2 linked regions of the Homo sapiens genome follow. The protein of the gene in region 1 interacts with the protein of each later gene in a pairwise test. Each region holds a gene or a part of one and is shown in the gene's direction. Other genes may lie near its edges.

The links.
Region 2: the proteins of IDI1 (region 1) and ZNF655 interact in binary tests that used the Homo sapiens proteins (3 or more experiments, as listed by UniProt).

The regions. Positions count from the first base shown.
Region 1 is NC_000010.11:1,042,580-1,046,400, reverse strand, and holds part of IDI1 (isopentenyl-diphosphate Delta-isomerase 1), read left to right. Parts: intron 1-2,199; exon of another isoform or gene 2,200-2,229; coding exon 2,230-2,402; exon of another isoform or gene 2,403-2,891; coding exon of another isoform or gene 2,892-2,913; intron 2,914-3,007; coding exon 3,008-3,100; intron 3,101-3,638; coding exon 3,639-3,769; intron 3,770-3,821. UniProt on the Homo sapiens protein: Catalyzes the 1,3-allylic rearrangement of the homoallylic substrate isopentenyl (IPP) to its highly electrophilic allylic isomer, dimethylallyl diphosphate (DMAPP).
Region 2 is NC_000007.14:99,561,579-99,565,399, forward strand, and holds part of ZNF655 (zinc finger protein 655), read left to right. Parts: intron 1-309; coding exon of another isoform or gene 310-395; exon of another isoform or gene 396-717; coding exon of another isoform or gene 718-916; intron 917-2,284; coding exon of another isoform or gene 2,285-2,481; exon of another isoform or gene 2,482-3,127; intron 3,128-3,821. UniProt on the Homo sapiens protein: Probable transcription factor.

The DNA.
Region 1 (3,821 bases):
GAATAATGTGGGCAGTTGTAACACAACAGCAAGTATTTGTGTATCTAAACATAGAAAAGGTGATGTGTTGTGCTCCGATGTTACAATGGCTACAACATCATTAGCAATAGGAATATGTCAGTTCTGTTATAATTTTATGGAACCACTGTAGTATATGCAGTCTGTAGTGTACCGAAACACCATCATGTGACACATGTATGTACACAGTGGATATACACAGGTGATCTGCAAATATTATGCCATTTTATATCTGAAACTTCAGCATCCTCAAATTTTGGTAGCTGTGGGAGGTCCTGGAACTAACTCCCATATATACCAAAGGATGACTGTATATAAAACTAGCCTATAGAAGTTGGAAATCTTTCTAAAATTGAGGCTAACTCTGAAGTTGACTTCCTTTTCACATTATTTTCCCTCTTGATTTGTTTTAATCATTAACCTTATTTCAGATTTTTTGTATTAGATATCAATATCTCCATCATCACTGACTCCTGACACACGCATTCACACACACACACACACACACACACACACCCAGACCCTATGTGGGTCTAGAACTTTGTATTAAGTAGCTGTTTAAACACTTTGTGTACATTCTGCAGTATGCTTGAACTCTGTTGAAAGTATTTCAGTGGTCCCCGTGTGGTGGCTCACTCCTGTAATCTCAACACTTTGGGAGGCCAAAGCAGGCAGATCTCCTGAGGTTAGGAGTTCGAGATCAGCATGGCCAGCATGGCAAGACTTCGTCTCTACTAAAAATACAAAAATTAGCCTGGCGTGGTGGTGCACGCCTGTAGTCCCAGCTACTTGGGAGGTCAAAGCAGGAGAATCACTTGAACCCAGGAGGTGGGGGTTGTAGTGAGCTGAGATTGCACCATTGCATTCCAGCCTGGGCAACAAAACGAGACTCCCTCTCAGAAACAAAAAAGTATTTCAGTAAAATCTATGTATTTGAAATAGAGTCACATAGAAAGTAGAGCACATGGGATCTTCAAAATATATTGGGTAGAAAAATCAGAAAACAAAAATTATTATTCATTCAGAAATAAAGGAGAAGAAAAAAGGGAATAAAAAACTTCAAGGTCAGACTATGTAAAGGTGCCCTGAAGGATACAAAGATTAGAAAGCTTAGACGCTGCTGGATACAGATATGTAAAAGTGTGAGTCAGAATACTGAAAGTACCCTAATAAGTGCTTTACGTTGTAATCACATGGGAGGGATAAATGGGGGTTCAGAAAATTAATGTTTGATGCACTAAGGTAGGAATGGGCCAACTATGGCCTATAGGCCAAATCTGGCCTGCTGCCTGTTGTTACGTCCTGTGAGCTGAGTGTTTTTCTCATATTTAAACGGATGGAGAAGAATCAAAATATTTTGTGACACATGAAAATTAAATGTAATTCAGTGTCCATAAATATTGGCATGCACCCACACTCAGTTTACATACTGCCCAGTTCACCTATTGCCTGTGACTATTTTAGTGTTACAGAGGCAGAGTTCATACTCTCTGGCCCTTCACAGAAAAAACTTGCCAAGCACTGCCTTAAAGCATCTATTGAATATAACGAATTAAGTCTTCTCCTGTTTATCTAGAATGATATCAGCTAAGTACTGTCCTGGGGGAAATTGACAAAACTCATACAAATAATTTTTCTGATAACCCAGGAGCTTGGGTTGAGAAAAACTGGATTAAGTCTTACTGTGACATTGGTAGAAAGGTTATTGAATGTCTGGCACGAGTTGTGCCTTGAAAAAATGGATTTCAACCAAGATTGGCCTGTGGCAATCTTGAGCAACTATGCAGAGACAGGCAGTGGGAAAAACAATTCAGGATGGCAATGGGAGCACATTCTAGAGATTACAGAAGCTGGTGTAGAAAAGCAGGATGAAAAGTTAGGTTGGGGCCAAAAACCAGAGAAGAAAAGTACACTGGAAAAAGGATTGAGTATCAAGTGCTGCAGAGGATCTCAGAGGTCAAGAATTTAGAGCGGAACGTTGAGCTTGGCCTTCAGGAGCATGACTGTGATAAAAGGCCAGCTGTGAAACCTGTAGGAGAAATGATGACCCAGATAGTGCTGAGCAGCCGGCTGGCAGCGTTCTTGGGGTCCCTGTGGGGATGCAGAGTGGTACAACTGCAGATGGGGAAGCAGCATCATTATTAACCTGTGTTTATATGACATTCAGAAAAATATATGATGGCCTTTCTTTCTCTTTTCCTTTAATATTAGTGTTCTAGAACAGATCAGACATTTTGTAATGATGCCTGAAATAAACACTAACCACCTCGACAAGCAACAGGTTCAACTCCTGGCAGAGATGTGTATCCTTATTGATGAAAATGACAATAAAATTGGAGCTGAGACCAAGAAGAATTGTCACCTGAACGAGAACATTGAGAAAGGTGCTGCTTTGAAACAGTCTTTCTTGTAAAGCGATTTGTGTAGGCATTTCCGATTTGCTGAGAAGAGCACTCTGTTCAAGGAAGTGCAGTCTTCAGTAATACCGTATTTTCTCGTTGGTTCCAGTTCGTTAAATAGTGTGGTCATTAGCATCTGCTTTGCTGTCTTCCTGTTACAGCGATTTCTCTTCACTTCATGCCTGTTACTCGGCTTCTTCAGAGTTATTCTGGATTCATAGAAGAGGGACTAGCCCTGACATACAGCAGCAGCCTAGCCTCTAATATTTCTAGAGAGTGGAGAGAGGCGGGCACCATGCAGGGAAGCATGTGCCTTCACCACTTTCCGAGAACTGAATGTCCTTGATAGGGAACTTGACTGCCGGAAAGGGGCCACCAGCATCACCATTTCCTTCACTCGACGGCCAACTTCCTTGCCCAGTGCAGAGCTCTTCCTCACCATAGCCATGCAGAGACTATGCATGTGGATAAACCATGGGAAAAAGCAAAAGCAGCAGCAAGTTACTAATGTTATTCTGAACTGCAGGGAGAGAATTTGGCAAATAACTGGTACTTAAGGCTAAAATAATTGTTATTTCTTTTGCTTTCAGGATTATTGCATCGAGCTTTTAGTGTCTTCTTATTCAACACCGAAAATAAGCTTCTGCTACAGCAAAGATCAGATGCTAAGATTACCTTTCCAGGTTAGTACACTTTTAATGTACAATATTGTGTTTGTACATTAATTTGACTTTTTATCATTCTGAATTCTTGGAGCCAAGGTCACAAAGGGAAATCCTGTGAATGGCATAATTTTATATTCTGCATAAAGTGAGTTTACACAATGAGTGCAACCTAATACAACAGCAAGAAAAAATAAGAACTAGTAAGCAATTGGGCAATATGTATAATTTACATATTTATCTTTAATCTGTATTATCTACACTTTGATCTTTTTTGGTTAAAGAAGTATTAATAAGGAACCTACCTACAAATGTAGTCTGTTTCACAACATAATTACTGATAGCCCATTATAACCAATTTTAAAATCCTTAAAATAATTACTGATAGCCCATTATAACCAATTTTAAAATCCTTAAAATAATTACTGATAGCCCATTATAACTGATTTTAAAATCCTTAAAAATCATTTCATTTTTCAGTTACTTATAAAACTTTTTCTTGATCTTTCAGACCTACTTTGAAGAAAAGTTGATCTGTCTCTGTATTACCATTTTCCAGGTTGTTTTACGAATACGTGTTGTAGTCATCCATTAAGCAATCCAGCCGAGCTTGAGGAAAGTGACGCCCTTGGAGTGAGGCGAGCAGCACAGAGACGGCTGAAAGCTGAGCTAGGAATTCCCTTGGAAGAGGTAACCAGCTCTCCTACACAACCATACAAGCTGAAACCTAAACATACTATAA
Region 2 (3,821 bases), on another chromosome or scaffold:
GCTTTGCTTTGCCCATCTGCAAAACAGGTATAGTCTTACTCTTCTGTAAGAGGACTGTCATGTGATGAAGATAAAGTGAAATACAAGCTTTCCTAAGAAAATCCTGTATCACAGGTCAAAACACGCATAAGGCATGCAAGTACTGAGACGAAGCAGAGTAGACACACCCAATACCTGAAAAATGTTCATTGGTTTTACTAGAGTATTGAGGAGGGTCCTGCTGACACCCCTTGGGCTGGAGAGGCCTCCTCTGAAAGGGAGCCCTGGGAAAGGGCTGCTCTCACTCTTCACTCCTTTCTCCTCCCTCAGCTCCACCTGTTCCTCAGGTGCCTGCTCTTCCCCGTGAGGGAAGCCCAGGAGACCAGGCAGCTGCGCTCTTGACAGCCAGGTACCAGGTGAGCTGAGGAACCCTCTGCTTTTCCTCAGGGACTATTGCTACTGATGGAGTGTGGCCTCTCTCTCATCCCATCTGTAGACCTTGCCTGGAATTTTTTTCAATAGCAGACTCCAGTTTGGGAATTGATCCTCTTCGGAGACCTGGACTTCACATAAACCAACTTCCCATCTCCCCAGTGCCATGAGCAAACTCTGTTTTCTCTTTGTCCATGGTTGTGTGATGGGTGCTTATTAGATGTTTAAGGGTTATGGGCTTTATTCCGTAGGTTCTAATCTGTTCTCCCTCCTCCTCAACGTAAGTACACAGTGGATACCCTCTCTATGATCTTCATTCTCTGGCCATGGTGCTACAGTGTTCTCATTCCTCAGAGCAGCCAGGATGTGTTATTTCAGGAGTTTGTGACATTCGAGGATGTGGCTGTGCACCTTACTCGAGAGGAATGGGGATACCTGGACCCTGTTCAGAGGGACCTCTACAGAGAAGTGATGTTAGAGAATTATGGGAACGTGGTCTCACTGGGTAAGGACTTCCTTATTATTCGGTTTATCTATTTGAATTTCTTTACTTTCTTGTTTCTTCCTAAGTATAAGGTCTCTGAGAAGGTCTGTAGAGTGTGGCTTAGATTCCAGGACTTAGAACCTCTGAATCCTTATCTTTCACATCGTCTTCTCCGGGAGGGGTAATTAACGTTTGTTTGGGGGTGCCAAGAAGAGACATTCTCCTCCTTATCCCCAGTTCATGTTTATGGCCATTGTGGGGCATCTTTTCCCTTTTAGCAAAGGGAAACTTTCTTGTGCTTTGCTTGATTTCTCACCGTTCTTTTCTTTTCCATTTTTGTAGGAGAGACCCCAGGGTGGCCTCCCAACCTCCAACCAGACACTTTCCTCTTTGTTATCTCAGTGTCCCTGTATTAGAGAATTGAAGAATTTCCCATTTTTCTAGGAAAAAGAAATGCCGTTTATTTAAAAAGACAGGCTAAATTCCTTCTTGTTGAGTAGTCCCTCACCCCTTAAGATCCCCAGATGTATCTCCAAGCAGGCAGAACTTGAGATGTCATTTGAAGGCATGACTCACTGTGAGTACATTTCAGTGAGTCACCCAGAATGGTAATCCCACGTAACCACACCCAGGGCAGCAGAAATCTCAGATGTTTACCCCATGCTGAGGTGGGGTCAATGCTTAACTCATGTCTCTCCCTTGTCATTTTGAAAGGTACAGTGGGAAGCTGGGATTAGCCAAGCTGTAGTGCTGCTGGGAAGCATCAGTGGGGTTTGTCGGCAGCTCCCTTGGTGTGAGCATTGTTCCTTTTTCTTTAGTTTATTTTTTATATTATATTATATTTTTTATTTTATTTTATTTTTAGATGGAGTTTCACTCTTGTTGCCCAGGCTGGAGTGCAGTGGTGCAATCTCAACTCACTACAACCTCTGCCTTCCAGGTTCAAGCGATTCTCCTGCCTCAGCCTCCCAAGTAGCTGGGATTACAGGCATGGGCCACCACGCCCGCCTAATTTTGTATTTTTAGTAGAGACGGGGTTTCACCATGCTGGTCAGGCTGATCTCGAACTCTTGACCTCAAGTGATCCACCTTCCTTGGCCTCCCAAAGTGCTGGAATTACAGGCATGAGCCACCGCACCCAGCCTCCTTTTTCTTTAGTTTCTTGCTTGCTTCTGCACTCTTCTTTTTGTGTGTGTAAATACTGAATCATGCATTTTCTTTTCTTTTTTTTTTTTCCGTTGGCTTTGTCTATGCTGGTGGCATCCAGGGCATTGCTTTGTCTCCCTGATTATGCTCAGGATTCAAGGTCTTCTTATTTGTGGGGAGGCAGGCTGCCCACTGGGACGGTTTTTAGTGTGTTTTCCATTCCTGGCTCTTTAATCTTTGTAGGCATACTTCTCCGCCTTCCCACCACCCGGATTCATAGTGTGAATTCCTGCCCGGCCCTGAGTCATACCCAGGCAAGTGCTTTCTCTGGAGAAACACTTGCCGTCCTTACAGCAGGAATCTCCAAGAGATGGCCCAAGTATCGGCTTCCCATCGATATTGCTCGTCCCTGCTCGGAAACTCCTTTTCCACGATTGTGAGATATTAAAATTGACTGATGGAATAGAAGCTCCCCAGGATGCCACCACTGTGTAAAATCGCAGCTCCTCAAATTACCTCTGTTTAATTTCAAATGTTAGGGTCCAAGGAAGCCCTCTGTTGCAACCAGATATGTTTTGAACCCAGTTCATTCAGAAACCATGGTTGGTGGTCATCATCTACTTGTATTGTGAAAAACCAGAAATTCCAAATTCAGCTCTTCAGTTATGGTCTTTTCATATTATTTTAGAATGTGAAACTTATGCTGTGTGCCCCTCCTTTTATGTGGCGAACACAACCTGCCCCGTATGGTGCCTAACTCTCCTGTGAACCCTGGGCTTCCCTCATGTTTAACATTCTGGTTTCCTCCTTCCTTGAAGTCCCTGTGGCCCTCTTCAAGGTCCTACCTTCCTACCCTTTATTCTTTGTGGTTCTGTACAGATTGATGCAATTATATTGCCTTTCCTGATTAAGTGTTCCTTACTCTGTCCTTGATGGAGGGGAGAAGGGAGGGCAAAGAAGTTAAATTTATTTCAGGGCATCAAATTGAATATCTACTTAATAACTTTGTAAACTGTAAAGTGACATACATATAATTGTAAAGTACTGTTAATTTTATCTAATAATTACAGAGTTTCCAACAGTTAACCTGTCTACTTTTTGGAGTAAAGAAACTTTGTAGCAGTTTAATGCAGTCTAATAGCATAGTATGCTATAGACTGAACTTTATCCCATTTCCTCTCTTATCTCTGCACTGCACACTCGACATGCAGTCGACATGCATACACACTTTTACACATACAAGAGACACGCACAGTGCAAGAAAGCCTTCTACTCATCTTGCTTTTGTGATCAAGTTAGCAGCATCTCCTTAGCAGTTATTTTTACAATCCTTGGGAAATCATTTTCATATTTTTGGGTTCAGCAGACTTCATCTGAAAATTAACCCATTTATGCCTAGTGTTCCATTATTGGAACACTAAGCTTGCGGGAATTATTTATGTCCCGCTGCTCAAGGTCATCGCCAAGGTCTGATTTTTAACAAAAATTGCAACCTCCAGCATAACTGGGTTAAGTTTATACATTTATTAATTTAACTTTTTAGGGTTGTAAGACTTTTTTTTTTTTTGAGACGGAGTCTTGCTCTGTTGCCCAGGCTGGAGTGCAGTGGCACCATCTCTGCTCACCGCAAGCTCCACCTCCCGGCTTCATGCCATTCTCCTGCCTCAGCCTCCCAAGTAGCTGGGACTACAGATGCTCGCCACCATGCCTGGCTAATCTTTTCGTATTTTTAGTAGAGATGGGGTTTTGCCATCTTAGCCAGGATGGTCTCGATCTCCTG